7 linked regions of the Homo sapiens genome follow. The protein of the gene in region 7 purifies or fractionates together with the protein of the main gene of each other region. This does not show direct contact. Each region holds a gene or a part of one and is shown on either strand. Other genes may lie near its edges.

The links.
Region 1: the proteins of SLCO1B1 (region 7) and MPC2 purify together in Homo sapiens (affinity purification with mass spectrometry; one large-scale study listed by BioGRID and IntAct). This does not show direct contact.
Region 2: the proteins of SLCO1B1 (region 7) and MARVELD3 purify together in Homo sapiens (affinity purification with mass spectrometry; one large-scale study listed by BioGRID and IntAct). This does not show direct contact.
Region 3: the proteins of SLCO1B1 (region 7) and COQ8B purify together in Homo sapiens (affinity purification with mass spectrometry; one large-scale study listed by BioGRID and IntAct). This does not show direct contact.
Region 4: the proteins of SLCO1B1 (region 7) and SLC30A9 purify together in Homo sapiens (affinity purification with mass spectrometry; one large-scale study listed by BioGRID and IntAct). This does not show direct contact.
Region 5: the proteins of SLCO1B1 (region 7) and DNAAF5 purify together in Homo sapiens (affinity purification with mass spectrometry; one large-scale study listed by BioGRID and IntAct). This does not show direct contact.
Region 6: the proteins of SLCO1B1 (region 7) and DYM purify together in Homo sapiens (affinity purification with mass spectrometry; one large-scale study listed by BioGRID and IntAct). This does not show direct contact.

What each region holds. Positions count from the first base shown.
Region 1 is NC_000001.11:167,919,751-167,924,169, forward strand, and holds part of MPC2 (mitochondrial pyruvate carrier 2), read right to left. Parts: intron 882-4,419; coding exon 797-881; intron 341-796; coding exon 229-340; intron 1-228. UniProt on the Homo sapiens protein: Mediates the uptake of pyruvate into mitochondria.
Region 2 is NC_000016.10:71,624,648-71,629,514, forward strand, and holds the start of MARVELD3 (MARVEL domain-containing protein 3), read left to right. Parts: upstream 1-1,536; 5' UTR 1,537-1,582; coding exon 1,583-2,049; intron 2,050-4,719; coding exon 4,720-4,847; intron 4,848-4,867.
Region 3 is NC_000019.10:40,696,046-40,700,464, reverse strand, and holds part of COQ8B (atypical kinase COQ8B, mitochondrial), read left to right. Parts: intron 1-13; coding exon 14-155; intron 156-290; coding exon 291-398; intron 399-4,410; coding exon 4,411-4,419.
Region 4 is NC_000004.12:41,992,839-41,997,257, reverse strand, and holds part of SLC30A9 (proton-coupled zinc antiporter SLC30A9, mitochondrial), read right to left. Parts: intron 1-4,419. UniProt on the Homo sapiens protein: Mitochondrial proton-coupled zinc ion antiporter mediating the export of zinc from the mitochondria and involved in zinc homeostasis, zinc mobilization as well as mitochondrial morphology and health.
Region 5 is NC_000007.14:753,735-758,153, reverse strand, and holds part of DNAAF5 (dynein axonemal assembly factor 5), read right to left. Parts: intron 3,566-4,419; coding exon 3,333-3,565; intron 1,373-3,332; coding exon 1,160-1,372; intron 1-1,159. UniProt on the Homo sapiens protein: Cytoplasmic protein involved in the delivery of the dynein machinery to the motile cilium.
Region 6 is NC_000018.10:49,334,692-49,339,110, reverse strand, and holds part of DYM (dymeclin), read left to right. Parts: intron 1-4,419. UniProt on the Homo sapiens protein: Necessary for correct organization of Golgi apparatus. Involved in bone development.
Region 7 is NC_000012.12:21,196,994-21,201,412, reverse strand, and holds part of SLCO1B1 (solute carrier organic anion transporter family member 1B1), read right to left. Parts: coding exon 4,225-4,419; intron 906-4,224; coding exon 741-905; intron 1-740. UniProt on the Homo sapiens protein: Mediates the Na(+)-independent uptake of organic anions.

The sequences.
Region 1 (4,419 bases), on a different chromosome or scaffold from region 7:
TTAACTAGTTAACTGGTTAACTTATTTGTAAACCCCTAGACTTTTCTAGAAATGTTAAATTTCTACTTTAGATACTTCTTGTCTTAGCATTATATATGAATCTTTTAAAAAAATTAGTGCCATCTCCAGCCTGGGCAACAGAGCGAGACCCCGTCTCAAAAAAAAAAAAAATTAGTGCCATCTAAGTAGCTTTTGCAACAGTTTTAAAAATATCTCTGGTAGGCTTACCTCCAAATACGAAAAAGCTGAGAGGCTCCTGCTGCCCCCACAAAGAAATTAACAGCAAACAGACTCCAATTTTTTGGAATAATTACAAGTGAGTATCTTGACCAAATAAACCCTGTTGAAACAAAATGTTACTTTAAAAAGAATACATACTGCTTCAATAACTTCAGTGAATACTTAATATTGAGTAAAGTAATTACAACAATAATGTAGGATGAGGGACAAAGAAATGCTATACTCTGAATTTTCAATGTTTCTGTAACTTAGTGTCACAGAAAATACTCAATTCTTACATGAAAGAGGAATCTTTAAAGTGACTATTAACTGTAATTTTCTTCCCACTTATAAAAATATGTTCATGGCAAAAACCTGAAAAGCAAAAGCCCATTCAGATACTTATTCTTTCTGTGACTCCTCCATCCATAACTTAATAACTTCCTAGACATAATACTGTTAATTCCTTTGTGTGTGGGTGTATTTCAAACACTAAGCCACTAAATAAACTGATATAAAAGAAAACAAAAATCATTTATGTTCTACAAGAAACACAGAAGATATTTATTTAATTTACCTGTAGCCATCAAAACAGCAGATTGAGCTGTGCTAAGTTTTTCTGCAGGTCTGGCCATATCAGCCAATCCAGCACACACCAACCCCTACACATTAACGCATAGAAAGAAAAAAAGTATCACAAATGTGGAGTAATAGTTTTAACTTTAAATCAAGCACAAGACATTTTTGAGATTTCCGTAAGTTAGCAGCTATAATTTTAGTGTCCATTCATTAAGAAAATGTAGATTACAACAAAAAAAAAGCACAATGAATTAAAAAACTGCTTTTTGAACTAATTTTATTTTGTTAGGTACACTAAGCAGTCTCACATATCTGAAAGTCAGTAGTACATATATAGATAAGATGTATATGTATGCATTACACGTACATATATATTTTGGGTTTTTTTTGGTCTACCTATTTCACATATGAATTTATATACTCTTTATATATGTCAGGAACCACTAACCACTAGCATGGAAGATACCTAAAAGCTGTTAAGGTCATTTGTATAGATTCTTCCTTTGATGTTTTCTGCCAATGTTATCATTTTTAAATTAAATTAAATTTTAGATTTGGGGTATATGTGCAGGTTTGTTACATGGGTATATTGTGTGATGCTGAGGTTTGGGCTTCTAATGAATTATTTTTTAAAAGTATAAATATCAGAAAAACTTATAATTTTAGTTTTTTGGTTAGATCATTTTTTTTTTTTTAGACAGTCTCACTCTGTCACCCAGGTTAGAGAGCAATGGTGCGATCTAGGCTCACTGCAACCTCCACCTCCCAGTTTCAAGCAATTCTCATGCCTCAGCCCCCAAGTAGCTGGAATTACAGGCGTGTGCCAATATGCCTGGCTAATTTTTGTATTTTTAATAGAGACGGGGTTTCACCATGTTGGCCAGGCTGGTCTCAAACTCCTGACCGCAGGTGATCCGCCCGCCTCAACCTCCCAAAGTGCTGGGATTACAGGTGTGAGCCACCATGCCCGGCCTTGGCTGTTACGCCATTTTTCTTTAACATCAGCATATACATGGCCATTTCTCTTCTGTGTTTTTAACACTGTCTCTATTGCACTCATGCGTTTTTGCTCCCACCAGATGAGCTGTATTTTTACCAAGTCACTATGTTTGTCCCCAATCTATTTATGCCAGTTTTACTTGTTAATGTAATTTACATGATTTAATAAATTGTTTTTTTTTAAAAAAACTAAGCTGGAAATTATATAGGATGCACTGTAGTGTAATTTATCCAGGATAGAAAATGTGGAGCTCAGAAATCCATACACAAATAAAAGATTTAGCTTTAAAAAAGACTGATTGTCAATGAATATATATTTATATCCTTTAGGTTAAAATAAAATATTTAAGGTACATAGGTTTTTGTTTTTAGGATTATCCACTTTGACCTTTATGATTAGTTATGTGGTTTCAACTAAAGTGGTTACAAAGGACTCTACTACAGTTATATGTTTGAAGGCATATGGTCTGAGAGTCTTCATGTTATAGAACATATGTGGCTTGCAGAAGCAACTGTTATGTGTCATGTATAGAATTCTACAGATTAATTATCAAATACTCTGGGATAGTAAAACACAGTAAGAGGTATATAAGGTAAGTATCTAATAGAAGAAGTCTCCCCACCAGAGAACAAAACACAGAAGTTTCTATTGCTATGCTGTCATCTGGAGACTATGTATGATTTCAACATGTACTTAAAATAGATGTTCTTAAAGAGACAGATAGTCAAGAAGGCATTTATGAGTATATAATGCTGTCAATATCTCACAACAGTAATGAACCAGTTCAAATAAACCCCAAAGCTATTGATAAAATCAATAAACTCCTAAACTGTGGTAAATTTGAGATCAAAGAGGCCCCTAAATTTATTGTGAATAGATGAAATCACTCAAACTCTTTTAATGATTGAATACTTCAGCAATCAATTCCACTATAAAGATATATTATTACTATGTAATTTTAAGTGTAGGTAGGGAGAGAAGAAGGAAATGGTAATGTAACTTCCATTAGTATAGGGGGTTTTAGGATCTTTTCTCAATATGTAGATATGAAAAAAAAAACCTGCTCCCTAGATCTCTGTAAAATACAGCTCCCGAATGACTTATATTCTAATCTTGTCACTTTATAGTTGAAGAGACAAAATGACAAAGAGACTAAACTTGCCCAAGGCCATAAGATTGAGTCATAGCCAATTCCAACTCTAACATTCTCAACCACTTGAATTTACAACTGAGTTTCTGAATTGTTCTAACCATTTTAAAAGTACATTTAAGAGAATTACAACAGCCCATCACTCAACAACAACAAAAAACACCTTGATTAAATTAAAAAACAGGCAAAGGACTTGAATAAATATTTCTCCAAAGAATATACACAACTGACCAATAAGTACAATAAGTATATGTTCAGCATGACTAATCATTAGGGAAGTGCAAATAAAAACAAAGATATCTAACACCCATTAGGTGCCTATCATAAAAACAAAAACAAAAATGCTCCCCCATCAAAAGTAACAAGTGTTGGTGAGGATGTGGAGAAATTAGAACACTTATGAATTGCTGGTAGAAATGTAAAATAATGTAGTTGCTGAGGAAAACAAAAAATATTAAGCAGAATTATCATATGATCTAGCAATTCAACTTCTGGGTGTATACTAAGAAGAATTAAAAGTATTGACTTAAACAGATTCTTGTACATCAATGTTCATGGTAGCATTATTCACAACAGCAAAAATGTGGAAGCAAACCAATTGTCCAATCAACATATAGAAGAATAAACAAAATGTGGTAAATACATACAATGGAATGCTATTCAGCATTAAAAAGAAAGGAAAGTGACACATGTGACAACGTTAATGTACCTTGTGGACATTATGCTAGGGGAAATAAGCCAACTACAAAAAGACAAATACATTTTGATTCCATTTACATGAGGTACTTAGAGTAGTGAAATTCATAGAGACAGAAGGTAGAATGGTGGTTGCCAGGGACTGGGAGAAGGAGAATGGGGAATTATGGGTACAGAGACTTGCTTTTACAAGATAAAAAGGGTTCTGGAGATTGGTTAACAATGATGTAAATGTACTTAACGCTACTGAACTGTACACTTTGAAAATGGTTCAGATAGTAAGTTTTATATGTATTTTACCACATTAAAAAAAAAAAAGCCTACAGACCAGTGGTTTTCAAACTTTAGAGGGCATTAGAGAATCATCCGAAGAGGTTATGAAAACAGAGCTCACTGGACTCCACATCTAGAGTTTCAGATTTAGTAGGTCTGTGATGGGGCCTAACAAGTTCTCAAATGATGCCACTGCAGGTCCAGAGAGATGACACTTTGAGAAGCACAGTTATAGACCCAAACTGGCCCTTTCAACATAAAATCAATGATTTGCTACAAACAGCCACCACAATTGTTTCTTTTCAGCTAAGTAAGAACTTTAAGAAAGAAAACTTTGGGGAAGAGTAAAAGCACTGGGCTTGGAGTCAGAAGTCCTAGGTTCTCTCATTTACCAAATGCTAATATTTATATTCGAATAAATCCATCTACTTTTTGAGAGTAACTTTCCTCACCTATATTTTGGTGATAGTACCTTCAGTTCTCATACTAAATTAATAATAAA
Region 2 (4,867 bases), on a different chromosome or scaffold from region 7:
TGCCCACCAACTCTACTCCCAGGGACCTCCTTGTCCAGCTCCCGCGTTCCTCAACCTTCTCTCTTTCTGGGACATTTTCTCAGCCTTCTTGTCATCCAGAACTCAATTCAAACGACATCTTCCCAGGTCTATATGAGGAAACCTGCCCTTCCCATTAAACTTTAGACACTGTCTTCTTTGTTTACTACCTGTTTTCCCTTTTCCTGACACACTAGAATGCAATCACCCTGCAAGCAAATTTTCCACTATATCTCCAGTACCTGCTAAAGCAGGTGCTCATACATATTTGCTGAAAGAATTAATTACCAGATGGCAATTGTATATATTTTGTAATATCCTTACTTGGCAGAATTAAAAGCTGCCAATTTTGTGTAAGTCCCCATTTTAAAAAACAGGGCTATTTGTAAGCCCAGGACTATTGTGATAGATGAACTGGCTGCAAGCCCCTTACAACATAGGTGTTATAAGGAAAACAGGAGAAGGGAGAAAGAGGGACAGTGGATGGGTGGAGGGAGAAGTGGAAGGTGGGTGACTGGGTGGATGTGTGGGTAGGTTAGTGGCCAGATGGATGGATGAATGGGTGAGTGGATGAATGGTGGATGGGTGGATGCGTGGGTGGGTGGCTGGATGGGTGAGTGGGTGGATGAATGGGTGGATGGATGGGTGAGTTGGTAGATGGGTGGGTGAGTGGGTGGGTGGATGGGTGGATGAGTGAATGGGTGGGTGGATGGATGGTGGATGGGTGGGTGAGAGTGGATGGTTAGGTGAGTGGGTGGATGGATGGGCAGGTGAGTGGGTGAGTGGGCGGATGGTAGATGGGTGGGTGGATGGGTGGGTGAGTGGGTGGATGGGTGGATGGATGGATGGAGGGTGGGTGGGTGGGCGGATGGGCAGGTGAGTGGGCGGGTAGATGGGTGGTGGATGGGTGGGTGAGTGGGTGGATAGATGGATGGATGGGTGGATGGTTAGATGGGTAGGTGAGTAGGTGGATAGGTGGATAGACGGGTGTATGGATGGGTGAGTGGTTGAATGGGTGGATGGTTGGACGGGTGGGTGAGTGGGTGGATGGGTGGATGGATGGTGGATGGGTGGGTGAGTGGGTGGATGGGTGGGTGAGTGGGTGGATGGGTGGGTGAATGGATGAGCGGGTAGTGGGTGATTGGGTGAATGAATGAGTGTCTGGCTGAGTGAGTGAGAGGATGGGTACCTCTGGGAAGGTAAATCCAAGTTGCAGTGTAAGTTGAGCCAGGGGAGGTGGCCACAGTTGGCTCCCTTAGGCCGCCCACCTCGTGGGGTCACCAAGGGGTTACTTCGGGGCAGAAAGGTGCGGCTGTGGGTCGCCCCGCCCGGGTTTCCAGCAGCAGCACCCCAGCCCCCACCCAGCACACAGGCACCCCTCCCGCCCGGGCCCCAGACGCGCTCAGGCCGCCCCCTGAGGGCGCCCGTTCTCAGGTGAGCTCCCGGACTAGCGCGCATGCGCACAGGTGAGTGCCCGCCCCGCCCCCGGGCTTGGCCACCTGCCCAAGAAACTTGTTGGTTGTTGCCCTCAGGTCGCTCCCGGGCGGGGACACGGAACCCGGCCATGGAAGATCCGTCGGGGGCTCGCGAGCCCCGGGCCCGGCCGAGAGAGCGGGACCCGGGACGGCGCCCCCACCCAGACCAAGGCCGCACCCACGATCGACCGCGGGACCGACCCGGGGACCCGCGCAGGAAGCGAAGCAGCGACGGGAACCGGCGAAGGGACGGGGACCGGGACCCGGAGAGAGACCAGGAGAGGGACGGGAACCGCGACCGGAACCGGGACCGGGAGAGGGAGAGAGAGAGGGAAAGAGACCCGGACCGAGGCCCCCGCCGGGACACACACAGGGACGCGGGCCCTCGCGCAGGTGAACACGGAGTTTGGGAAAAACCGCGCCAAAGCCGGACGCGGGACGGAGCCCGGGGACTGACCTGGGACGCAGCCGCGCCTCCTGGGCCCGCGCCCTGGGAAGCCCCGGAGCCGCCGCAGCCGCAGAGGAAGGGAGACCCCGGGCGCCGCAGACCCGAAAGGTGAGAGGGGCCGGGGCGCTGCGACCTCCGCGCCGGGGACACCTGTGGCCCAGGCCGGCCCGCGAGGCCCTGGCGTCCCCGGGTTCTCGTCCTAGGAGCCCGTTTAAATGAACAAATGCCGTTTCTCCCTTCTGCGCTCTCAGAGGCGACCTGGCAGGGAAGGAAAACTTTAGGGTTCCCCCTTCTCGTGGCCTGAACCCAACTAACAAAGCAAAAACCACCCCTGTGAGCAGTGGCTGGGCTGGAGGACCTGGAGAAGAGAAAGAGAGGCCCCGGGACCCGAGAGGGAGGGGTGGGAGGAGACCAGGCGGGTGGGGTTCACCCCAGGCTCCTCCCCGGCCCGGCCCGCATGGTCACAGGACTGCGCCTTGGGGTTCAGACCCTTGTCCCGTGTTCCAGAGCCAGCCCTTCCCGACTCCAAAGTCCCCTTCCTTGTGGCCGGGCCGCCCACTTGGGAAGCCCGATGAAGAGTTAATAGTTTAATGTGTTACCCCTCCCAGGAATAGGTGCCTTCAGAAACAGGTGGGCCGGCGCGGTGGCTCATGCCTGTAATCCCAACACTTTGGGAGGCCGAGGCGGGCGGATCACCTGAGGCCAGGAGTTCGAGACCAGCCTGGCCAACATGGTGAAACCCCGTCTTTACTAAAAATACAAAAACTTAGCCAGGCGTGATGGCAGATGCCTGTAATCCCAGCTACTTGGGAGGCTGAGGAGGGAGAATCGCTTGAACCCGGGAGGCGGAGGTTGCAGTGAGCCGAGATCGCACCACTGCACTCCAGCCTGGGCGACAAAGCGAGACTCCGTCTCAAAAAAAAAAAAAAAAGTCAGATGGGAGACGCTACATTTTTAACCAAAGAACAAAGTCTACGTAAAATTCTCCCACTGAAGGGTACAGGTTTGTTTTCCCTTTTGCCAGTGAGGTCTCTCTAGGCAGCGTCATTCGAATCCCACGGCTGCTTGAGACCGCACCCTCCTAATGAAAAAACTTTGCCATCTCTGCCTTGCACAGAATTCCCATAGGCCCCTTGTAAGGAGAAAGGTTCAGGGTGTACTGGAAGACTCTGTGAGCTAGGGGAGGGTGGGGGGGGAAGGGAAGACAAGAGGGGACCTGGTCCCCACACCGCCTCCTAGGGACCTGGTGTTTTTTCCATCCATTGAATACCCAGATAATGTGCCCCACACGGTGAACTGTGAGCAGATGGGATATCTCCCCTGCCAGCTCCAACAGGAGACAGGTCCGAGGTGACGACTGCTTCTGGTTTTTGACACCTGGCCTCTCCTCTAGGGAGGAGTCAGGCTCCCCTCTCCCAGGGACTTGGAGGCTGAGTCCAGTCTGTCTCCCTGCTATGTCCACACAGCGGGAGAGCTCCTATCCTGAGTTTATGTTACATTATCTAAAACTAACTAGCATAACAAAGGGTGCGCCCAGATACAGTCAAAGCTTCGCCCAGGGAAACAGCTGTTGTTTCCCTGACTAAAGCCCATTGCACTTGCAACTGCAGGACCTGGGAGAATTCAGAGCTGCATTTTTAGGTTTCTTTAAAAACCACTGTCCGAGCCGGACGCGGTGGCTCACACCTGTAATCCCAGAACTTTGGGAGGCCGAAGCGGGCAGATCATTGGAGGTAAGGAGTTCGAGACCAGCCTGGCCAACACTGCGAAACCCCATCTCTACTAAACATACAAAAAAATTAGCAGAGCGCGGTGGCGCACGCCTGTAATCTCAGCTACTCGGGAGGCTGAGGTGGGAGGACTGCTTGAACCTGGGAGGCGGAGGTTGCAGTGAGCTGAGATCTCGACACTGCACTCCAGCCTGGGTGACAGAGTGAGACTCCATCTCAAAACAAAAAAAAAAAAAGGAAGACTGAGGAGGAAGAGGAAAGGTGTCCCAAGGAGAAGAATAGCTTCTGTAGTAACCCAGAGGCATGGAAAAGCAGTCATCTTTTGAGGGGAAGGGGGTAGTTCAGTATGGCTGGGTCTGCGAGCATGAGGTTGTGAGTGTAGAGAGATGAACAGGGGCCTCCTGTGCATGCTAAAAGTTTGAAAAATTTCAAACCTAAGAGAGACATGATGTTCTAGAAAGACTGTGGGAGCCTGGCAAGTAGAATGCAGCCCCCTGTTGAATCTTGGACAAAGCCCAGGATGTGCTGCATAAAGCAAGGAGAGAAGGGACAGAAAATGCTAGGGCTGCCAGAGGAGGAAATGATGTGATGATGTCAAAATCCGTGGTCTGCAGCTCCCATGCTCCTGGAGAGTTATTGCTGACTCAACACTTTCCAAAGTAACAAAGGGAGGAAGAGAATGCCTGCCTGGGCATCAGAGTCATGTGAATGCAAACTGGTTTTGAAGAGGCCTGGTGCATGCTGAACTGAGAACTTGCACTCACAGGAAGGCAGCTCGCAGCTACCTGGTGAGACAGCTCCCAGGGGCAGACAAACCATCAGCGGTACCAATCACAGCATCTGTCACGTGGTTAGTGGAGCTGGGCCAAGTATTTGGATGTCCCGTGGGGCCACTAAACCAGAGAATTCTCTGGAGTTTAAAATACCGGGACAAATTCTATTTCTGTTCTGCTAATATTTGGGCCCAGCACGAGGAGTCAAGAGTTCTAATCCTGAACGCTATTGAATGAGACACCCCCTAATGACCATGTATGCTTTTTGGTTATAGTGAACCCCCTTCGGAGAGATATCTGCCCTCGACCCCCAGGCCTGGACGAGAGGAGGTGGAATATTACCAGTCAGAGGCGGAAGGACTCCTGGAATGCCACAAATGCAAATACTTGTGCACTGGGAGAGGTGAGCCGTTTTGCAGGCTG
Region 3 (4,419 bases), on a different chromosome or scaffold from region 7:
CCTTCTGCCCCAGGCAGCTGCTGGCAAATGACCCCTTCTTCCGGGTCCCAGCCGTGGTTAAGGAGCTGTGCACGACACGGGTGCTGGGCATGGAGCTGGCTGGAGGGGTCCCCCTGGACCAGTGCCAGGGCCTAAGCCAGGACCTGCGGAACCAGGTATGCTGTCTGGTGGCACAGTGGGAAGGGCATGGCCCCAGGGCGGGTGGGCCAGGCTCATGGTCTCTCTCCAGGCCAGCAGTGGCACCACAAGGGAGATCACACTGAGATGCCTGTTAATTCTCCCCACCCCAGATTTGCTTCCAGCTCCTGACGCTGTGTCTGCGGGAGCTGTTTGAGTTCCGATTCATGCAGACTGACCCCAACTGGGCCAACTTCCTGTATGATGCCTCCAGCCACCAGGTTGGTTCCTAGTGATGTGTGTCTGGGTACATTTGCTGTTGTAACAAATATTCCTTGATATTTCGGTAGCTCAACAAAATAGCAGTTGATTACCCCCACAATAGGCAGGGGTGGCCCTTTTCCAAGTGGGATTCAGGGACCCAGCTCCTTCCCTTTTGTGGTTTTGCCATCCCTGGGGCCTTGCAACGCTCTGCTTCCCAAGGAAAGGGTAAGAGAGGTTGAGGGTAGCCCCCTGCCTAACTGCTTTGGCCAGAAGTGGAAAAAGTAATGCCCAGGCTAAATACACTAAGCTCATCCTGGGGCAATGGACATAGCACTTCCGTTGCCATTCCATCAGTGAGAGCTAGTGACATAGCCTGCCTAGGTGCAAGGCATGCTGGAAAATGGAGTCCCTGGCTAGGCAGTGGTTCCTGGTGGCAATGTGACAGCACAGAGGGGAAGTACAGCTTTTGGAAGGCAGTTAGCCATCACTACCACACTCGTCATCCATACAGAACACACCATCACCTGCCCTTGCCTCTTGACAGCAATAAAAAGACATCCCTGACCCTTGCCTTCTCAGAGTGCCCAGTCCAGTGGGGGGACCTGGCACCACACAGCGATGACCTAGAGTGGTTCGTACCAACCACAATGAGGAGCACAGGCCAGATGGGTCAGGACCGGGATGGGGGAGGCACAGGCAGAGGGGTGGGGGCTGGAGTTGGGGGAGGCACAGGAAGTTATGGGATCCCAGGGAAAGTGCCTGACTCACTGTGGGGTGAGCAGGGATTAAGGGAGGCTTCTTAAAGCAAGTGCCATTAAAGCTGAGGCCACTGAGAGGCTGAGGTGGGAGGATGGCTTGAGCCCAGGAGGTCGAGGCTGCAGCGAACCAAGATCATGCCACTGCACTCCAACCTGGGTGACAGGGCGAGACTCTGTCTCACCAAAGAAAAAAAAAAAAAGCTGAGACCAGAGGCTGAGCATGGTGGCTCATGCCTGTAATTCCAGCACTTTGGGATGCTGAGGCAGGAGGATCCCTTGAGGCCAGGAATTTAAAACCAGCCTGGGCTCTATTTAAAAAAAAAAAAAAGGCTGAGATGGGACAGGGGAAAAGGAGACAACCATCCAGAGAGCAGAGTGTTCCCAGCAGAGGGCAGGGGGTGTACAAAGACCTGTAGTGAAGGTTTGGACCTGCAGACTTGAGTGTTGGTGGATACATCATTACCTTTATCAGGGGTTGCCAACTGTTTTCCAAAGTGGTCTATCCCCATTTTGTCCCCAGAGGGGTCTTTCTAAAGCACAAATCTGGTCAAGATATCCCTCCTACAGCTTCACAGCCCCCTCAGAATCAAGTCTGAACCCTTTGCTGAGCATCCTGTGGCCCCACGGAGTCTCCAGCCCTAGTCCCTTGCCTCTTCTTTCTCCACAATGTGCATACACCCTGTGTCCCCTCCTAGGTTCATACCCCAGGGATATGTTTACCCAACTCCAAGTGATAGGAGTCCTGACATCAATTTATTGGTTTCCAACAGGACTTTTTTTTTTTTTTGAGACAGAGTTTTGCTCTTGTTGCCCAGGCTGGAGTGCAATGGCACGATCTCAGCTCACTGAAGCCTCTGCCTCTGGGGTTCGAGAAATTCTCCCACCTCAGCCTCCCAAGTAGCTGGGATTACAGGTGCCCGCCACCACACCTGGCTAATTTTTTGTATCTTTAGTAGAGATGAGGTTTCACCATTTTGGCCAGGCTAGTCTTGAACTCCTGACCTCATGATCCACCAGCACTTTTTTTTTTTTTATGGAATAGATGATGTCAGTATGTCACAGATGGGAGGGATCCATATTATTTTGGGACACTTTTCTTTTTTTTCCCCGAGATGAAGTCTCGCTCTTGTCACCCAGGCTGGAGTGCAATGGTGTGATCTCGGCTCACTGCACCCTCCGCCTCCCAGGTTCAAGCAATTCTCCTGCCTCAGCCTCCCAAGTAGCTGGGATTACAGGTGCCTGCCACCACGCCCAGCTAATTTTTGTATTTTTAGTAGAGATGGGGTTTCACCATGTTGGCCAGGCTGGTCTCGAACTCCTGACCTCAGGTGATCCGCCTGCCTTGGCCTCCCGAAGTGCTGGGATTACAGCCATGAGCCATTGCGCCTGGCCTTGGGACACTTTTGTTTGACGTTTTTGTGTGCATTTGCATGAACGCCCAGTAGAAACTCTCTCTCTCTCTCTCTCTCTCTCTATATATATATATATATATATATATATATAATTTTATTTATTTGTTTGTTTAGAGATAGAGTTTTGCTCTTGTTGAGAATGGAGGCTGGAGTGCAGTGGCACAATCTCGACTCACTGCAACCTCCACCTCCTGGGTTCAAGTGATTCTCCTGCCTCAGCCTCCCAACTAGCTGGGACTACAGGCGTGCGCCACCACACCCAGCTAATTTTGTATTTTTAGTATAGGTGGGGTTTCACCATGTTGGCCAGTCTGATCTTGAACTCCTGACCTCAGGTGATCCGCCCCCCTCAGCCTCCCAAAATGCTGGGATTACAGGTGTGAGCCATCACGCCCAGCCACCAGTAGAAACAATTTCTTACTGTGGGTTGTGGTCAGTTCAAACTCTACTGCCCTAGAAACATTCTTACAGGTGTTCATTGAGCACAAAAATTAGAAACAGGCCAGGTGAGATGACTCACTAATGTAATCTCTGCACTTTGGGAGGCTGAGGTGGGAGGATCACTGGAGCCCAGTAGTTCGAGACCAGTCTGGGCAACGTAGTGAAACCCTATCTCTACAAAAAATGTTTCAAACTTAGCCAGGTGTGGTGGGGTGCACCTGTGGTCCCAGCTACCCAGGAGGCTGAGGCGGGAGGATCACTTGAGCGTGGGAGTTTGAGGCTGTAGTAAGCCATGGTCGTGCCACTGCACTCCAGCCTGGGCAACAGATCAAGACCCTGTCTCAAAAAAAAAAAAAAATGTCAGAACAGAGTTTATAACTAATAAACATATTTAAAAAGAAGGAAAAAAAATCAGAAACAACCACAGTATTCCTCAGCCAGATAAATGCACTGTGATAGATTCACGCAACGAAGTCCTTACACAGCAGTGTGAAATGAGTGACTGAGCTGGAGCGACACATGGCAACAGGGATAAATCGCAAAACCATGCTGGGCAAAAAGCACAAGTTGCAGGAGAACGACAGTAAATACCACTTCTGTGAAGTTTGAAAATATGCACACCATTACTCTAGATTGTTTACAGCTGTACACATACATAGAAAATATAGAAATGCATAAATGAGAATTTCAGGAAATAATTTAATAATGATTGTAGGAAAGAGGTGACCCTGGGGACCTGGGGGAGGTGTGATCAGGGCGGGATACACAGGAGGCTCCACGTGGATGGGGAGTATTTTTTTTTTTTTTTGAGACGGAGTCTCACTCTGTTGCCCAGGCTGGAGTACAATAGCACAATCTCGGCTCACTGCAACCTCCACCTCCCAGGTTCAAGCCATTCTCCTGCCTCAGCCTCCCAAGTAGCTGGGATTACAGGCACGCACCACCGCACCTGGCTAATTTTTGTATTTTTAGTAGAGACGGGATTTCACCATGATGGCCAGGCTGGTCTCAAACTCCTGACCTCATGATCCACCCACCTTGGCCTCCCAAAGTGCTAGGGTTAGAGGTGTGAGCCACCACGTGTGGCCGGATGGGGAGTATTTTATATTTTAGGCTGGGTGGCAGGATTTGTGAGTATTCATTTTACTTTTCTATATCTTTTATTATTCTCTGGATTTTTTTTCTGGGTCTAAAATTTGTTATTGCATAAACAATTAGAACTAAAAGAAAAAAAAGCCTTCAGCTAGGGGGTCGGTTGGAAACGGGAGATGAGGCCAGGAGCCCAGTGAGGCAGCCAGGCAGGGACTCTGGCAGGAGCAGGCAGGGTCATGGGGAGGGAGACAGATCCTGGCTGCCCCAATAGACAGTGAGGGTGTGAATGGGATCCCAGCATTCCTTTCACCATTCCTTGCTTCCAGGTGACCCTG
Region 4 (4,419 bases), on a different chromosome or scaffold from region 7:
AAAGTGTGACCTGGATGGAGTAGCTCAGTCTAGAAGACCACTGCTGATGTAACTTTTCGCCAGAGCAGAGTAAAAAACAGAGAATCTTTTTTTTTTTTGAGTTAGGAAACAATAGGAGATGATGACAACTTCCTAGACTGCATCTTGACATACCTCTCTACTGCCTTGCTTAATTCTATTTTTCTTTTTCATTTTTATTTATTTATTTATTTATTTATTTATTTGAGATGGAGTCCCACTCCGTCATCCAGGCTGGAGTGCAGTGGCGTGATCTCAGCTCACTGCAACCTCTACCTCCCGGGTTCAAGTGATTCTCCTGCCTCAGCCTCCCAAGTAGCTGGGATTACAGGCATGTGCCACCACGCCTGACTAATTTTTGTATTTTTAGCAGAGATGTGGTTTCACCATGTGGGCCAGACTGGTCTTGAACTCCTAACCTGAGGTAATCCACCCTCCTTGGCCTCCCAAAGTGCTGGGACTACAGGCATGAGCCACCGCACCCACCTGTGTTTTTCTGAGACAGGGTGTTGCTCTGTCACCCAGGCTGGGGCAGTGGTGCAATCATGGTTCACTGCAGCCTCAACCTCCCCAGCCTCAGGTGGTTTTCCCATCTCAGACTCCTGAGTAGCTGGGACCGCAGGCGTGTGCCACCCTACCTGGCTACATTTTTTAATTTTTTTTTGTAGAGATGGGATTTTGCCATGTTGCCCAGGCTGGTCTCAAACTCCTGGACTCAAGTTATCTACCTACCTTGGCCTCCCAAATTTTGCTGGGATTACAGGCATGAGCCACTACGACTGGGCCAGAGTGATATTTTAAAACACTCCTCTTTTTCTAAGCCTATGGCTTAAAATACTCAAATTTCGGCCAGGTGCAGTGGCTCACGCCTGTAATGGGACTTTGGGAGGCCAAGGCAGGTGGATCACCTGAGGTCAGGAGTTTGAGACCAGCCTGACCAACATGGAAAAACCCCATCTCTACTAAAAACACAAAAATCAGCCAGGCGTGGTGGCTAACACCTGTAATCCCAGCTACTTGGGAGGCTGAGGCAGGAGAATTGCTTGAACCCAGGAGGTGGAGGGTGCAGTCTGCCGAGATCCACCATTGCATTTCAGCCTGGGAAACAAGAGCAAAACTCCATCTCAAAAAAAACCACAAAAAATAAAAAAACTCAAATTTATTTTCATACCACCCCACCATACCCTAGACACAACAGGTTTCTTTCTGCTCCTTAAAACTATTTGTCTGGGCCAGGCGCAGTGGCTCACACCTAAAATCCCAGCACTTTGGGAGGCCGAGATGGGTGGAATGCTTGAGCTCAGGAGTTTGAGACCAGCCTGGATAACATGGTGAAACCCAGTCTCTAACAAAAATATAAAAATTAGCTGGGCATGGTGGCGCTAGCCTGTGGTCCCAGCTACTCAGAAGGCTGAAGTGGGAGGATCACTGGAGCCCAGGAAGTCAAGGCTGCGGTGAGCTGTGATCCTGTCAGTGCACTCTAGCCTGGGTGACAGAGCAAGACCCTTTCTCAAAAATACATACATATATACATACTAGTCTGATCTTTACAGTTCCTCTTTACTCTTCCCAAATTGCTCTTTCTCCCAGACCTTCACGTGGCTTGCTCATTTTCATCTTTCATGCCTAGGCTCAGTCATTACCTCAGAAAAGCTGGAGTCCTAGGCCATCTTATCGAATGAAATAGCCCATCCTGGCTACTTTCTAGCCCATCATCCTGCCTATCTCTTCTATGGCACTTTAAATATATTTATTTCTGGTGGAAGAAAGGTGGAAACCATCCACCTCGTTCAGCACTACACTATCAGCAACTATAATGCCTGGCATCCAATGCTGAATGATTCTCATTCACAAAAACTCTAGGAGGCACATACTACAGTTAGCTTCATTTTATACTTAAGTACAATAAATTCTATCATGAACTTGATCTGCATAGAATCTTCCTGTCTGCCTGCCTAAATGGTCTTTTTTTTGGTGGGGGGACGGAGTTTTGCTCTTGTTGCCCAGGCTGGAGTGCAATGGCACGATCTCGGCTCACTGCAGCCTCTGCCTCCTGGGTTCAAGCAATTCTCCCACCTCAGCCTCCCAAGTAGCTGGGATTACAGGCGCCTGCCACCATGCCCAGCTAATTTTTTTGTGTTTTTAGTAGAGACAGGTTTTTGCCATGTTGGCCAGGCTGGTCTAGAACTCCTGACCTCAGGTGATCCGCCCACCTTGGCCTCCCAAAGTGCTGGGATTACAGGTGTGAGCCACCACACCCAGCCCTAAATGGTCTTTTATAACTGTCAATGCTCTCTTAATCAGACTAAGAATTTAACTTTTATCCCCAGCAGAGGTCCCTCCTCCTCCCCAACCTCTTTAAACAACTAAGAGCATTGACAGTCTAAATGGTCTTTTTTTTTTTTTTTTTTTGAGACCACATCTGACGGGTTCAAGCAATTCTCCTGCCTCAGCCTCCTGAGTAGCTGTCATTACAGGCGCCCACCACCATGCCTAGCTAATTTTTGTATTTTTAGTAGAGATGAGGTTTCACGATGTTGGCCAGACTGGTCTTTTGTAACTGTCAATACTCTTAGTTATTTAAAGAGGTTGAGGAGGAGGAGGGACCTCTGCTGGGGATAAAAGTTAAATTCTCAGCCTACTTTTCTTATGACAATAAATACTAGCAGATTGGAGACAATAATAACATAGTATGTTTGATTTCTATTTTCTATTTAAAAATTACACTTTTATTAATTTCAGTGTTCATCTAGTATACTTAAGTGTCTTCCCCTCTCAAATTTTTGCCAAATGAGGCAAGGTATAAATACATGAAAAAAAGAAATATGTGCTCTATCCTAACCCAAAGAACTTTTTATAAAAAAGGATATACTTACTACAGAAACTAAGTAACATTTTTATTCTTTAGAAGTATATGTGTACTGTAGATCATTTGTAAAACACAAATAAAAAAATTTTTAGACAAACTCACTGTTAATATCACAGTATATATTTTCACTGTATTTTTCTACAGTTTTTACCTAATAACACAAGAGTATTTTCCATGTCACTATTCTTCTAAATTATAACTTTTTTTTTTCTTTTGAGATGGAGTTTCGCTCGTCGCCCAGGCTGGAGTGCAGTGGCGCAATCTCAGCTCACTGCAACCTCCACCTCCTGGGTTCAAGTGATTCTCCTGCCTCAGTCTCCCAAGTAGCTGGGATTACAGGCGCCCGCCACCATGCCCAGCTAGTTTTTGTATTTTTGGTAGAGATGGGGTTTCACCATGTTGGCCAGGCTGGTCTCGAACTCCTGACCTCAGGTGATCCCCCTACCTCGGCCTCCCAAAGTGTTGGGATTACAGACATGAGCCAACACACCCAGCCCTGAATTATAATTTTTTAAAAAAATGGTTGTATACATCACCAGCCCATAATAAAGGTATCATAATATATTTCAGTTTCCCACTCTCCATAACTATGAACTACCAATTTATTACTATAATAAACTTCTGCAAACATTTTAATATGTATTTTGATTATTTCTTTAAAGTAAATCCTTTTGAGTAAAAACTGTTAGGTCAGAGGGCATAAACCGTTTATGTTTTCAATCAGTAGTTAAGAGAGTTCCTGTTTTCCCACACCCTCAATATGGGGTATTATCATTATGAAAAATTCGGCCAAAATGAAATAGGCAGTGAGAAGTAAAACCCTTTAAAGTCTCTGTTTTTCAGTATGGAACATTTTTGCATTTTTATTGGCCACTTGAACAACTTTATGAACTTTGTATTCAATTCCTTTGTCCATTTTCCTACTGGAATGTATACTGGTTTGTAAAAATTCTTTATAACTTAGATACTAACTCTAACTACACTATCTAATTGAGTAGTCACTGTTTACTGAGCACTTAAAACGTGGTTAGTCTGAACTGTGATGTGCTGAAAGTGTAAAATACTCACTGGGTTTTAAAGACAGTACAAAAAGATGATGTAAAATACTTCAATAATTTTGATATTGATTACATGTTGAAATATTTTGAATATACTTAATAAAATAGTATTAAATTTTATATATTTTATTATTAAAATATATAAATTTCGTTATTAAAATTAATTCTAGGATATATTAAAATTAATTCATCTTTAATTTTACTTTTTTTAATGTGGCTATCAGACAACTCAAAATTACAAACAGGGCTCTCATATTTCTTTTAGACAGTTTCTATTTTGCCTTTAAAGGCATTCCTCATTTTTAAGTATTCAAGCAATCCCTCAAGGTTTCCTCCTCTCCTTATGCTTTATAAGCTTTTCCCAGCCACAGGCATTTTAGAAGCATAAACTAAACCTTACTTCTAGACAAATAAAAACAACTGTTTTTAGATTTTCTTTCTCCAAAAGTTCTTCAAATAGTCTTCTCACATGCA
Region 5 (4,419 bases), on a different chromosome or scaffold from region 7:
ACACATTCGATGATGTGTTAAAAACGGGTTTTGGGAAAAGCTGAAGCATGGCTGAAATGCCATGAGCACGCGGCCCGGGCCCCTCCCCCGCTCCCTTCCTTACCCCAGCTCCGTTTCCTTCCCTCTATGTATTCCAGGAACTGCTTACAGGTTTCTTAAAACAGTTTACAAAAATGACTGTCAACAGCCCCACCTCTCGTTCTGAGGACGGAGAGGGAGCCTGACACAGGACAGGCCGGGCTGAGAGCACAGTGGCAAGTCCCCGTGCCCCAGGCCAGCTTTGGGGCCATAGAAGCCGCCGGAAACGATCGAGCCGGAGCAAGTGCCTCCAGGGGTGAGCTGAGGCCCGCCCTGCATGGCACGGCCGCCTGGTGGGGGCAGCCCTGTGTCCCAGAAATATCTGGGGTGCTGAGTCCAACACACACACTGACAGGGACCACTCACCTTCAAATGAAAGCAAAGCCATCACCTCTTCTTCCATGGAATACAACTATGGATTATTCCAAACAATTGAGCCCAACTACCCAGGCTGTTCCAGCTTCTGAGCTCAAGGATTTGCTGCTCAATTTAAAATTAAACAAATGTCTCTGGCAAATCCTCAGCTGGGCTGTGAGAAGCACAGATCGGAACGCCAGGCAGGGCTGATGGGGAACAGGCTGTCAGTGCCCCCTGAGGACGTGCGATCTGTGCAGGTACCCTGGGGACTGGATGGGATGGTGGACGTGCGACCACGCTCCTCAGGGGTGGGATGACGTGGACCCCACATCTACCCCCAGCAGCATGGGCCAGAGGGTCCCGGCCATGGACGCCTCCTGAGTCATCAAACACGTGAACTGTGGTGTGTGGCCAAGAAAGGGGCAGCAACGAATGTAAACGTGAGCGGCCGCCTGCAGCTGGGGCTGGGGCTGGGGCTGGAGCTCTGCACAGCCCAGGACGAGGCCCCGGAACAAGGGCTATCAGCGAGGGCACTCCGGTTACTGCAGGTGTTTCCGATGGCCCGGCCTGGCGGCACGGGGCGGACCCACAGACACGTCGCTGGGTGCTTCCGACAGCCCAGCCTGGCGGCACAGGGCAACCCACAGACATGTCATTACGATGGCTGACGGCCGGGCAGGGGAGGCTCCTCCTCTCCACTCCCGCATCTCCCAAGTGCTCTTACGTTTTCAGATGCCTGGCAGATGTGGGCCTGTGCCAGCTCTGTGGCGATGGCTGCCAGGTGCGGCTGGAGGGCTTCTCGGGGGCAACCCCGCATGGCGGAGGCCAGCACCAGGAGGCCGGAGGCAGAGGGCGTCTTCTTCAGCGTCGATAAGATCAGCTTCAGAAACACCTCAGGGCTGACAAACGTCCCGACGAGCTCTGCGGATCTGGTACACTGCGAGAAAGAAACATGAGAAAACTCAGAGCCAAACCCGAGGGTCTCAGCCGGGCTCCTGCTCTCGGCGCCGTGGCCTCCCAGACACAGCCGTGCACCAGACAGAGCCCCGTGTTAGGCAGAGTGAGTCCTTGGCACATGCTCAGAGCCCTCAGGAAAGGTACAAGGGTCCGGGTGTGGTCTCAGAACGTCCCTGAGGCCAGCGAGCCGGACACGCCTCCCAGGCAGTGAAGTCTGGCCCAAAGGATGCTGTGTCCCAGCTGTGGGGTTCACCACACACCCCTCATCGGACACCAGTGACCCAACCTTCCCATCACTAAGCTGATCAATACACACCAGCCCCTCTGTACCGTGGAAGCCCACAGTGGATCACACACTCACCAGCCCCTCTGCACCGTGGGATTCCACAGTGGACACCACACACCAGCCCCTCTGCACCGTGGGATTCCACAGCGGATCACACACACACCAGCCCCTCTGCACTGTGGGATTCCACAGCGGATCACACACACACCAGCCCCTCTGCACCATGGGATTCCACAGTGGACACCACACACCAGCCCCTCTGCACCATGGGATTCCACAGCGGATCACACACACACCAGCCCCTCTGCACCGTGGGATTCCACAGCGGATCACACACACACCAGCCCCTCTGCACCATGGGATTCCACAGTGGATCACACACACACCAGCCCCTCTGCACCGTGGGATTCCACAGCGGATCACACATACACCAGCCCCTCTGCACCGTGGGATTTCACACCGGATCACACACACCAGCCCCTCTGCACTGTGGGATTCCACAGTGGATCACACACACACCAGCCCCTCTGCACCGTGGGATTCCACAGCGGATCCCACACACGTCTCTCGTCCTCTCAGCCTCACCCCCGTGTCTCTTGCTCTCCTGTAGGTTCCACAGAGAACTACAGACAATTTTAAATTCACGGTAGTTTTTGAAAAGCAGAAACATGACATGTAAATAACATGGAACCTGGAACATTTACTTTAAATCAGTCACAATGATTTAGATTTTTTTGTTTTATCTGAGACAGCGTCTCATTCCGTCGCCCAGGCTGGAGAGTAGTGGCGCAATCATAGCTCACTGAGGCCTCAAACTCCCGGGCTCAAGCGATCCTCCCACCTCAGCCTCCCGGGAGCTGGAACCACAGGTGCACGCCACTACGCTGGGCTAGTAACAGTGACCTGGACCACTAGAAGTAAAAGCTGCTGGCCAGGCTACCTTGCAATGGAATTTAAGGTTCAAGATGAGGATATTTTCAACTGAAATCTCAAGTCAAAGCTTTAGTTGTTCTCCTGAGCACTAGGAAGCATCCTTGTGAGGTGGGTGTGAAGTCCTCATGGTGGTGACTGTCAGCGCAGGGCGTGGCCCGGCCTAGTGAGGAGGAGAGGCCTGAGCATGGGACTCCCTCGTGCGTACCCAGTGGTGACGAGGCGATAACCAGCAGCCGAGTGTGGACAGGGAGTGAGAAAGAGGACTGCACCAGGGACACCACTCGCAGGACACCCGAAGCTGTGCCATCATCCCCCGTCTGGGTGCTCCCACAGCCCCTGCGAGGCCTGGAAGGGCCCTCAGGACAGTCCAGATGTCAATGCTGAACGCTGGGCATCTCGGTCCTGTGTCAGCAGCCCGGGCCCTGTCTGTCTGGTGCACGGCACGTCTACACAACACGTCTACACAACATGCACCTGGCACTGCACCCCCGAGTGTGCTTGAAAATGAGCATGAAGGGTTCACCCTCAACACGCTGTTACCTACGGGCACAGAAAGGAGATCAGTTGTTCCCAGGGGCTGGGTGTGGGGAGGGCCTGCGGCCCGGGGGTGAGGGGAACGCTGTCTTGGCTACAGTACAGCCTCGGGCCCCGCACACCACAGAGGCGGGATCTTAAGCTCGAGTTACAGCTCCGCGACCACGACTGGAATACGGCCACTTACACTTTGGACCACGGCTGCCTCCTCGTCGGTGCAGGCCTGGAACAGGGTCCGGAGGACGACCTCCAGGTGCTGCGTGGCGTGGTCCTCGGCATGCAGCAGCAGCACTGGGAGCAGCTGTGCCGACTTCACTCGGGTCCCCACCACCCAGTCGGTGATGTCGTGGCACAGGGCAGGGAGGATCTTGGAGAGGTTCCTGAAGACGAGCTCCCGGCAGCCCAGCACAGGGCGGCGCTCTGGAACGAAAAAGGGAAAGAAGAATGAGAAATTCACAAGCAAAACCTCAACAACTCAAGTTACCGCACATCACATTTAAGGGACACCTGTGAGTTTCAACCTCACCATTTCAAAACAAGTCTTGGGGTGGACGCAAAGCTGACAAATGCCCCGTCGTTCAGAACATTCACAGAGGCGGTGCACGGCTGCAGTCCTAGCCCTGTGGAGGCCAAGGCAGGTGGATCACTAGAGCCCAGGAAGTCAAGACCAGCCTGGGCAACATGGCAAAGACCCCATCTCTATAAAAAACAGGAAGATTAGCCAGGTGCCGTGGTGCATGCCTGTGGTCCCAGCTACGCAGGAGTCTGAGGTGGGAGGATTGCGCCACAGCACTCCAGCCTGGGTGACAGAGCGAGACCCTGTCTCAAAAAACAAACATTTAGAGCCACACAGAGATGCAAACAACACACTTGCCACACGTGCTGACGTGTATGATCAGAGAGACACGCCTGCGAAGCCGTCCCCCTATGATCAGAGAGACACACGCCTGCGAAGCCATCGCCATATGATGAGAGACACGCCTGCGAAGCCGTCCCCCTATGATCAGAGAGACACACGCCTGCGAAGCCATCGCCATATGATGAGAGAGACACGCCTGCGAAGCCGTCCCCATATGATCAGAGAGACACACGCCTGCGAAGCCATCGCCATATGATGAGAGAGAGACGCCTGCGAAGCCGTCGCCATATGATCAGAGAGACACGCCTGCGAAGCCATCCCCATATGATGAGAGAGACACGCCTGCGAAGCCATCGCCATATGATGAGAGAGACACGCCTGCGAAGCCGTCGCCATATGATCAGAGAGACACGCC
Region 6 (4,419 bases), on a different chromosome or scaffold from region 7:
ATAGGGGCATATCACCTTGTTTCAGATTGCCTGTTTATATCTTTTGATTTTTTTTTTCTAGCAGAGTTCCTGCCTTTTTATTGGTTGTTGGCAGGAGTTATTTGTAATAGCCTTGATATTAGTTTCGTGTTCTTCTTTCAGTCTATTATCTGCCTGTTAACTTTGTCCAGGGATTCATTTGCTGAGCAGTAATCTTTAATTCTGATGTAATTTAATGTGTAATTTTTGCCTTTGTGGTTTGTGTTCTTAGGCTTTTATTTAATAAGTCCTTTCTTGTGCTTATGTTACAAACTTATTGTACTCTTCCTTCTATCAACTTTAGTTTTATTCACATCTAAGTCATTAAGTCTTCTGTAGTAGGTCTTGAGTATGTTGTAAGGTGTAGGGATCTGTCATTATGAAATAAAAGAGGTGTTTCCCATTACCATCTTCTGTACAATGTGTTTTTCTTCATTGATTTGTGGAGTAATCGTAATCTTTATTGTATATTATTTCCATATATACACAGGTCTGTCTTTGAATTATCAATTGGGGTCCTTTGGTTTGTTTACTTTTTATACAAATACCATGCTGTTTTTCTTACTACAGCTGTATAGAGTGGCTTGATATCCAGTAGGGAAAGTGCCCCTCTTCATTCTTTATTGTCAAGGTTGACTTGGCTATTTGTTTATTATTTCATAAAAGTGAGTCAATTTATGCAGTTCCTCAAAAAAGTCGAGTGAGAATTTTGGTTGTGATTCGTTGACTTTCTGTATTAATCTGGGTAGAATTATTATCTTCATAGTATTGTCATTCTGTTCAGATCATCCACTGTGTCCTTTTTAAATGTTTTTCTTCATAGATGTCCTATGAAGGACCAAAACATTTTATTCCAAACATTTTAGTTATTCTGGCAGTCTTGCAAAATGCTGTTTTGTTTTTGATAACCTACTATTGTTGGTTAGTGCTGCTAAGGAGAAATGCTATTTATCTTTCAAAGTTGATCTTGTATCTGGCCTAGTTGGATTTTTAAATTTATTTGAATAGTTTCTTGATTTTTTAATAACTGTTTTAATCTAACTTCTCCAATATATACATACTTTTTCCATTTTATTAATTTCTCAACTCCCAGTTCGAGTCCCTTTGCTCCCACCCCTTTCCCCCACCTTCTTTTAATCTGTTTGATCGATATTGAATTTCTTATTTTCCTTCAAAACTACCAGACCTTTTTGTGGCTGCCTTTGTATGGTTTCTTCACTTTAATGCCCTTCCCCTTCTTCTTGTTCTTCGTCTGCTCAAATATCATCATCTTTGTGAAGAATTTCCCTTCTGACCCAGGCAGAATTGGTTGCTGTTATCTCTGTGTTCCTAATACAGATAGTTCATATTCTTTCATGGGATTTGCCGGATTTCATAGTAATTTCTTTTTCTATGTTTGATTATTCCGCTGACTCTTCACTAGGACTCCTCTCTTTCTTCTCTCCTTTTTGCTCCTTCCCCCTCAATCTCTTGTCACTGCTGTGATGTTCTCAATCTCTTGTCACTGCTGTGATTGGCTATGTTCTCAGGCAGGATCCATCGACAGAGAAAACCAGTAGCAGCTCTATCCATACATAGTTCTTAGCACTCACAATCTCAGAAGGAGAGAGTGCCTCTTTTCTGATAGTTCCAGAAGTGCTGGGAAGGATTTTGACAAAGACCATTTTTATTGGCCAAACGTGGATCACCAGAAGGCAGAGTCGTGCCCCATCCAATCCACATGTATGGAGGGGAGGGAGGTTCTCAGGAGGACAAAAGGGCTGCTTTTGCCAGAAGAACAGGAGGTGGATGTTGGTCAGGCAAAATCAACAGAGGACAGCTGTAAGCCAGTCAACAACATTCTGGATCCTTCTTTCATGAAATTCCCTTTACATTTTTGTTGCAATGAGTATTCCATTTGTGCTTATGAATACATATTACCTGACCTCAGCATTCTTCTTCCTCTTTGCTATCCTAAGTTATATATGCCTTGTACGCTTTGCTGATGGATCTATTAAGGAAGGTATTCAATAAGTTTCCAGTCAAAATGAAAACAGTAAAGATCCCTCCATCTTTCCATTTATTTATCCATTGAGTACCTATTATATACTAGAGTTGAGAATATAAACAACAGCAAAAATGAAAGGTTCTCTAGCTAGAGTCTCATATATTATAGTAAGAAAGATTTGTAAGTAATTGCCACTCATACTCCAGGTTTTAAATGCCACTTTTTAAGAGACGCTTTCTTTTGATCCCATAGTTACTATCAGAGTGTCCTGTAATCCTCTCCTGTTATTACTTGTTTTTTTCCTTTATAGTCCTTTTTGGAGTGATTATTATTTGATTTTTCTTTTTTCCACTAAATTGTAAGCTTCATAAAGGCAGGAGCCTTGTCTATTTGTTGATGGATATGTCCCCAATATGTAGCATAATGCCTGTCTAGAGATAGTAAGAATAAATTTTTAATCAATATTTGTTGAACATCATATGAGCAAAAATACTGTGTGATAAGCAATTTGATATAATTTGTTTCTCTGGGCCTACGGAAGACACACATGGTTCTGTTTAGGAATTTGGGGAAATGGGTTTTTAGCTTGCAGTGACTCTTATTGTCATGTTGTATTGCTTCAGTATTCTTATGTGCTGGAAGCTTTCCTTACCTCCCAGCATCAAACCCTCTACTCTTCATTCTTCTACATTTATAGGATTCCACGGTAAGAGAGGATGATCCAAGGTTAACACTTTTTTTGTTCTCTCACTTCTGATTGTGTTTGGCCCAATTAATTTTGAAGGAGAAGAACACTTTTTTCTAAATACGTATTCTTTCCCTAAGGTTATTAGACCTAGTAATTATTAATAGTCATAGATTTTGGTTTAAGCAAAACTAAAACAATTTAGTAAAACAATTTGTTTCTAGATCTGAGGCATACAGTAAGATGTTAAATTGTAAACCACCACAGCTGATTCTTTATTATTGATGCAATGACAAAATACATTTGCAGTCTGGCACGATGGCTCATGCCTGTAATCCCAGCAGTTTGGGAGCCCCAGGCAGGCAGATCACTTGAGCACAGGAGTTCCAGATCAGCCTGGGCAACATGGTAAAACCCCCTCTTTGTAAAAAAGACAAAAATTAGCTGGGCATGATGGCGTCTGCCTGTAGTCCCAGCTACTTGAGAGGCTAAGGCAGGAGGATCACTTGAGCCTGGGAGGTGGAGGTTGCAGTGAGCCAAGATCGCGCCACTAGGTGTCAGCCTAGGTGACAGACACAGACCCTGTCTCCAAAAAGAAAAAAAAAAAAGACAGAAAACGTTTGCAAATGTATTGGACATAGTCATCCATCTGCCTATCTAAATAGGCTCTAACTCACAGCCAAGTATTTGTTATGTCAGGATTTGGCTTTAAACTCTGACCCAGGTGAAAAGCCTAGCCAGGAGACTATTGTGTATGGATTCCAGACAGGCGTGGGCTATGTTTTGAATGAATGATTATTGTGATACAAAATTTTTGGGGGTTCTGAGCACCCAAATCAAATCATCATTAGTAAATCATAACATGACATGAAACATCAAGTTTGTCTTTCATTCAATTCATGAAAGAAGAACAAATACAAGAATTGCTTTATTTTATTTTTTAAATTTTTTATTTTTATTTTTTGAGACAAGAGTCTCACTCTGTTGCCCAGGCTGGAGTGCAGTGGTGTAATCTCAGCTCACTGCAACCTCCACCTTCTGGGTTCTAGTGCCTCAGCCTCCTGAGTAGCTGGGATTACAGGCATGTGCCACTATGCCCAAGAATTGCTTTTTACAGGTTAATTTTTACAACAGTGATTATGGAAATTTCAGGAAAGAGATTGTTCTACAATACTTTAAAAGTCAGATTTCTGAGTAGAGCTGAGCTTTATTCAACCACGTAATAAGGCTAATTGCGTGGGTCTCTTGTGTTTTTCTTTTTTTATATGTCATTTTTAAATATATTTCTTTTTCTTTCTTTATTTTTTGTTTTTGAGATGGAGTTTCGCTCTTATCGCCAAGGCTGGAGTGCAATGGCACGATCTTGGCTCACTGCAACTTCCGCCTCCCAGGTTCAAGCCATTCTCCTGCCTCAGCCTCCCTAGTAGCTGGCATTACAGGTGCCCGCCACCATGCCCAGCTAATTTTTTGTATTTTTAGCAGAGATGGGGTTTTACCATGTTGGCCAGGCTGGTCTCAAACTCCTGACCTCAGGTGATCCACCCGCTTTGGCCTCCCAAAGTGCTGGGATTACAGGCGTGAGCCACTGAGCCTGGCCTTTTAAACATATTTCTATCAGTAATAACTCCTTAAGATATCTGGTAGAATTTAAATTTTTCTAGTTCTAGAATCAAGTCATCATTAATTTGTTTAATGAGCTTTCATTTAAGTAGGTGTTAAGTATTTTTCT
Region 7 (4,419 bases):
CTGGGAGTCAAAACATTATTTTTCGATTTTAAACTTTTATCTTAAGATCAACAAAGAGATTATCTGGAAGCTTGGTCTCCTGCTTCAGTACATTCATTTTCTTGTTTACTTATGACCTAGTTACATACCACATGATAAGTTGTTTAATTCATCATATATTTATATTGAATTTCTATAATGTGTCTACAATACTAGAGTTGTGGGAAGAATAATACAAGGAAACTTTCCTTAATAAGCACATCTAAATGTGCCATTGAAAATAGATATTGTAGCAAAAAATACTCTGTAAAATATATTTGTTTTGAATTATGCATATTTTGATGTATTTAAATCGATACTCTTTTTGGAACTATTAGTGTCATATTTTTGTAAGTAACTGAGTCTTGATTTCAAAGTCCATAAATTATAGAATTATAATGATTATAATTACAAAAGGGTTTGTCTCAGATCTTAGCACTAAATTATAAGATCCAATTATACAGATACTACCTCTAAATTGTCCATTTATTTGCAACATTTTTTTCAGGAACTCATCTAAAATAAGATGCAACTTCAAATGCAGAGCAATAGTGACATCACAAGTTTTATATGTTTAATAACATTTGAGAAAGAATACAAGAAAATTATACTTATCCTGTATTACTAAAATACAAAATCACTTTCACAATAAAATACCACTTGGAATACAGTATTTAGTATTATTTCACTTATTAAGCACACAAGTAAAAAATATGTCTTACCCAATAAGATGTTAGCCTTAGATGAAGGCTGACCATACTGTTGCTCTACGTATTTGAAGACATAAGTAAAAGCACCAATATAGCTGCTTACTTGTAACAACGTCAAAAGCACAAACATAACATACAGGGGATTAGTAAGGATGCTTTTAAAAGACTGGAAAAAACCTGTAAAATTGTAAAAATAAAGAAAATATTTGAATGCAACTTAAATATACATTTATATCTAAAATTTGTGAACGTAAGTCATGTAAGATTTAAAATTCTATAAACACATAACACAAAGAGTGAGAATAGCCTGCAATACCACAGGCTGTTCACAGCTTTTAAATATATTCTTTCAATATTTTCCATACGAATATTAATATTTATTAGTTTAGTTTATTTTACCCTCAAATAGGGTCATACGTAAGTGCTGTTTTGTAACTTGCTTTCTTCACTTAATATTTGGTTATCCTGGGTACTTTACAATACTATTGCAAACATATTAATTCACTTATTCATTCATTCAGCAAATGTTAGGTTTTCAACTGGGTACCAGACAATATGCTAATTGTTCAAAAAACAAAAGTGAAGGCCGGGCACAGTGGCTCACTCCTGTAATCCTAGCACTTTGGGAGGCCGAGGCAGATGGATCACCTGGGGTCAGGAATTCGAGACCAGCCTGGCCAACATGGTGAAACCCCAACTCTACTAAAAATACAAACATTGGCCAGCACGATGGCACACACCTGTAATCTTAGCTACTTGGGAGGCTGAGGCAGGAGAATTGCTTGAATTAGGGAGGCGAAGGTTGCAGTGAGCTGAGATGGTGACACTGCACTCCAGCCTAGGCAATAGAGCAACAAGACTCCATCTCAAACAAACAAACAAACAAACAAACAAAAAAACCCAAAAACAAACAAACAAAAAGTGAATAAGACATATGATGTTTCTTATTTATTAGTACTTAATGATATAAGTATTATATTAAAAATATAACTATTAAATGGAAATGTAAAGACAGCATAATTCAAAACTCACAGAAATAAGACCATTGAGGTTCAAAATTCTTAAAGATTAATTTAGTATGAGGACTCAGACCTCCTGTTTCTCTAGTATACAGCTCTTCTACCATAACATACTTTCTCAGTAAATTTGGCAATATTATTAACCCTCTGTCTTAAGATACAAGGAAAGCAGCCAGGGGATAATATTGTGTCCCAAGTAGTATTATAATAGTAATAATACAACCACCTATCCCTACAAACAGCTGTGGTAACAAACTTCTAACTTCTGTTCATGGTAGAAATTATGTCATTTGGATCTGTGATCACCAGGTCAACTAGCTGTAATAGGACTTAAAAGTAGAAGGAACTACTTAGAAAAACAGTAGGAAGTATCAGAGTTCATCAAGACAGAGCCAAGATATGGTTACTGAGAGTTGGATGATACGGACTTTGAAATATTTTTCTCTATTTAAATCTCTAAAGATTTTCATTAGATATGGTCAGAACTAAGACATCCATTTAATGTCAGCTACGAAACAGTTGCATCTGCTTGAAATAAGGAGTAGAAGGAGTTAGAGAAAAGAAACAGAAAAGAAAAAAAGAAGAGATAAGAAAATGTATAGTGGGAATAAACAACATTTAAAATTCTTGGGCAAAAGTGCCACATTTCTCTCCACAGGTCTCCCCAGTCATGAAAAACCATCCCTGATTTGTAAGTATTATAAGTGAGTTGTGGCCTTTCTTCAACAGAAATGGAGTATATACATTCACACAAGCGTTGCATTTTTGAGGATGAGAAATTCAATGTCATCCAGTGTAAACTTCTGTATAGTCATGATCTACTATATATCATTAATAAGTGGATCAATAAACAACTTAAGTGGCATTAAACTAAGTACCTTAGGAAGCAATTTCCTCCACTTTTGAAAAGTTCTCATTGTTTACACACTGTTTTTGTAATGAACTGAAATCATCTTTTCATTCTAATCAGTTTTAGTTCTATTCAAGAGCATATGGAATAAATTCAATATTTTTTCTGACTATATATTCTTATTTTATCCATTCCTAATAGATACATACTTAAGATCCTCTTTCTTAGGGTCACACCTACAAAAACTGTTCATAATAGAGATTATGTCTACAATTGTCCTATTTTTACAACTTCATTATCCTCTCTGTTCTGTTTGGATCACAGTCAACCCCGCTCCTTATAGGTTTAGACAATCTACTATTTTTTAAAGATTTGATTTGGTACAGTAGAAACATCATATACAAAATGAAAATTATTGGTATAGTACTTTTAGTGTGAATGTTAAATTTTAAAAACATAAATGTTTAACATCTGATTCTTAGGAAAACAAACTTCTACTTGTAGTATATCCCAATTTCCATGGTAATAAATCATGGTAATTCTCTTGCCATGAACAATTTCAACCTACCAATGTAGCTGAAACTTAACAGTCCTCTGCTATGAGCCAATATAAAGAGTACCAGAACACCACTGCTCTTGGGTTAGTGTGATAGAAAGGAGAAAATAGCAATAAAGTAATAAGTAAAAGACCTGATGAAAGGAAGAACCTAGGCTACACTGGAGAATTTGTCATCTTACTTTAAAGAAAACTTGAAAAAGATGCTGAGGGTTTAAGTGTTGCATTGCTTTGGCTATTTCACCATTTCTCCCAAATCTGAAAACTGCTGTCAACACCTCACTGATTCACATATCTTGCTCTGGCTACTGCCAAGTCATTCTCTTTGTTTATTGACTCTCAATGGTTCTCCATTAGTCCCAGGGTTTATATTCAAAAGAGGAGGCACTGTCAAATGCTGATGCATCCTAATTTACATTACTTAGTCTAATTATCTTAACTACCACCTTTGCTTCCACTTTATTTTGAATATTTAGATAAGATAGATAGATAGATAATTACCAAAATAAATATTACTCTAATTACATAGGGAGAAACTTCTCCCGACTTCCTTCTCCTTAATCCATCTCTACACCTGATAATAGTTAAGTTTAATTTCACCATAATACTTAAGGCACTATATTGCTATTGTCTATATATTTCTCAGCATCACCCACTAGGTTCTTGAAAAATAGAGGTAATGTTTTATTACCAGGGCATAGTACAGTTCCTGGTACTACTTGTTGAATAAATGAAGGAATGAAATATTATAATTCTTTGAACTCTCCCAGTTTAGACCATATAATACTAAAATTAATATTTACTATTTGGCTCATAAAAAATGGATGTTTGTAAACTTTTGTTGGTTTCTCCCTGCTAAAAAGTACAAACCTAATTCTCTTCCACTTGTTATGTGCTCAAGACATATATGTTAACTTTAATAGGAGTTTTAGAAAAATAATTTATCTAAATTTAGTGCAAAAGAAAGCCAACTCCAGATGAGTTGGGTATGCTTTATTATTTTGGAATACTCATTCTTCCTTTTCATTGAGATTAACAACTCCAAATTGACAATGAATGTTAAATACTTACCAGTCACATTTTTGGTAATATTTTTTCCTTGATTGGTCAAATTAGCTGTTTGATCCTTTTCATCATTTGTTTCCAGCACATGCAAAGACAGTGAAGCTTTTCTTTCTTTTTGTGGTTTATTTGGAGTTTGGGGCAAGAAAAAGAATGGTATGGAAGAAATAATGGAGAATAGTCCAGACACAAGGAAATTAAGCC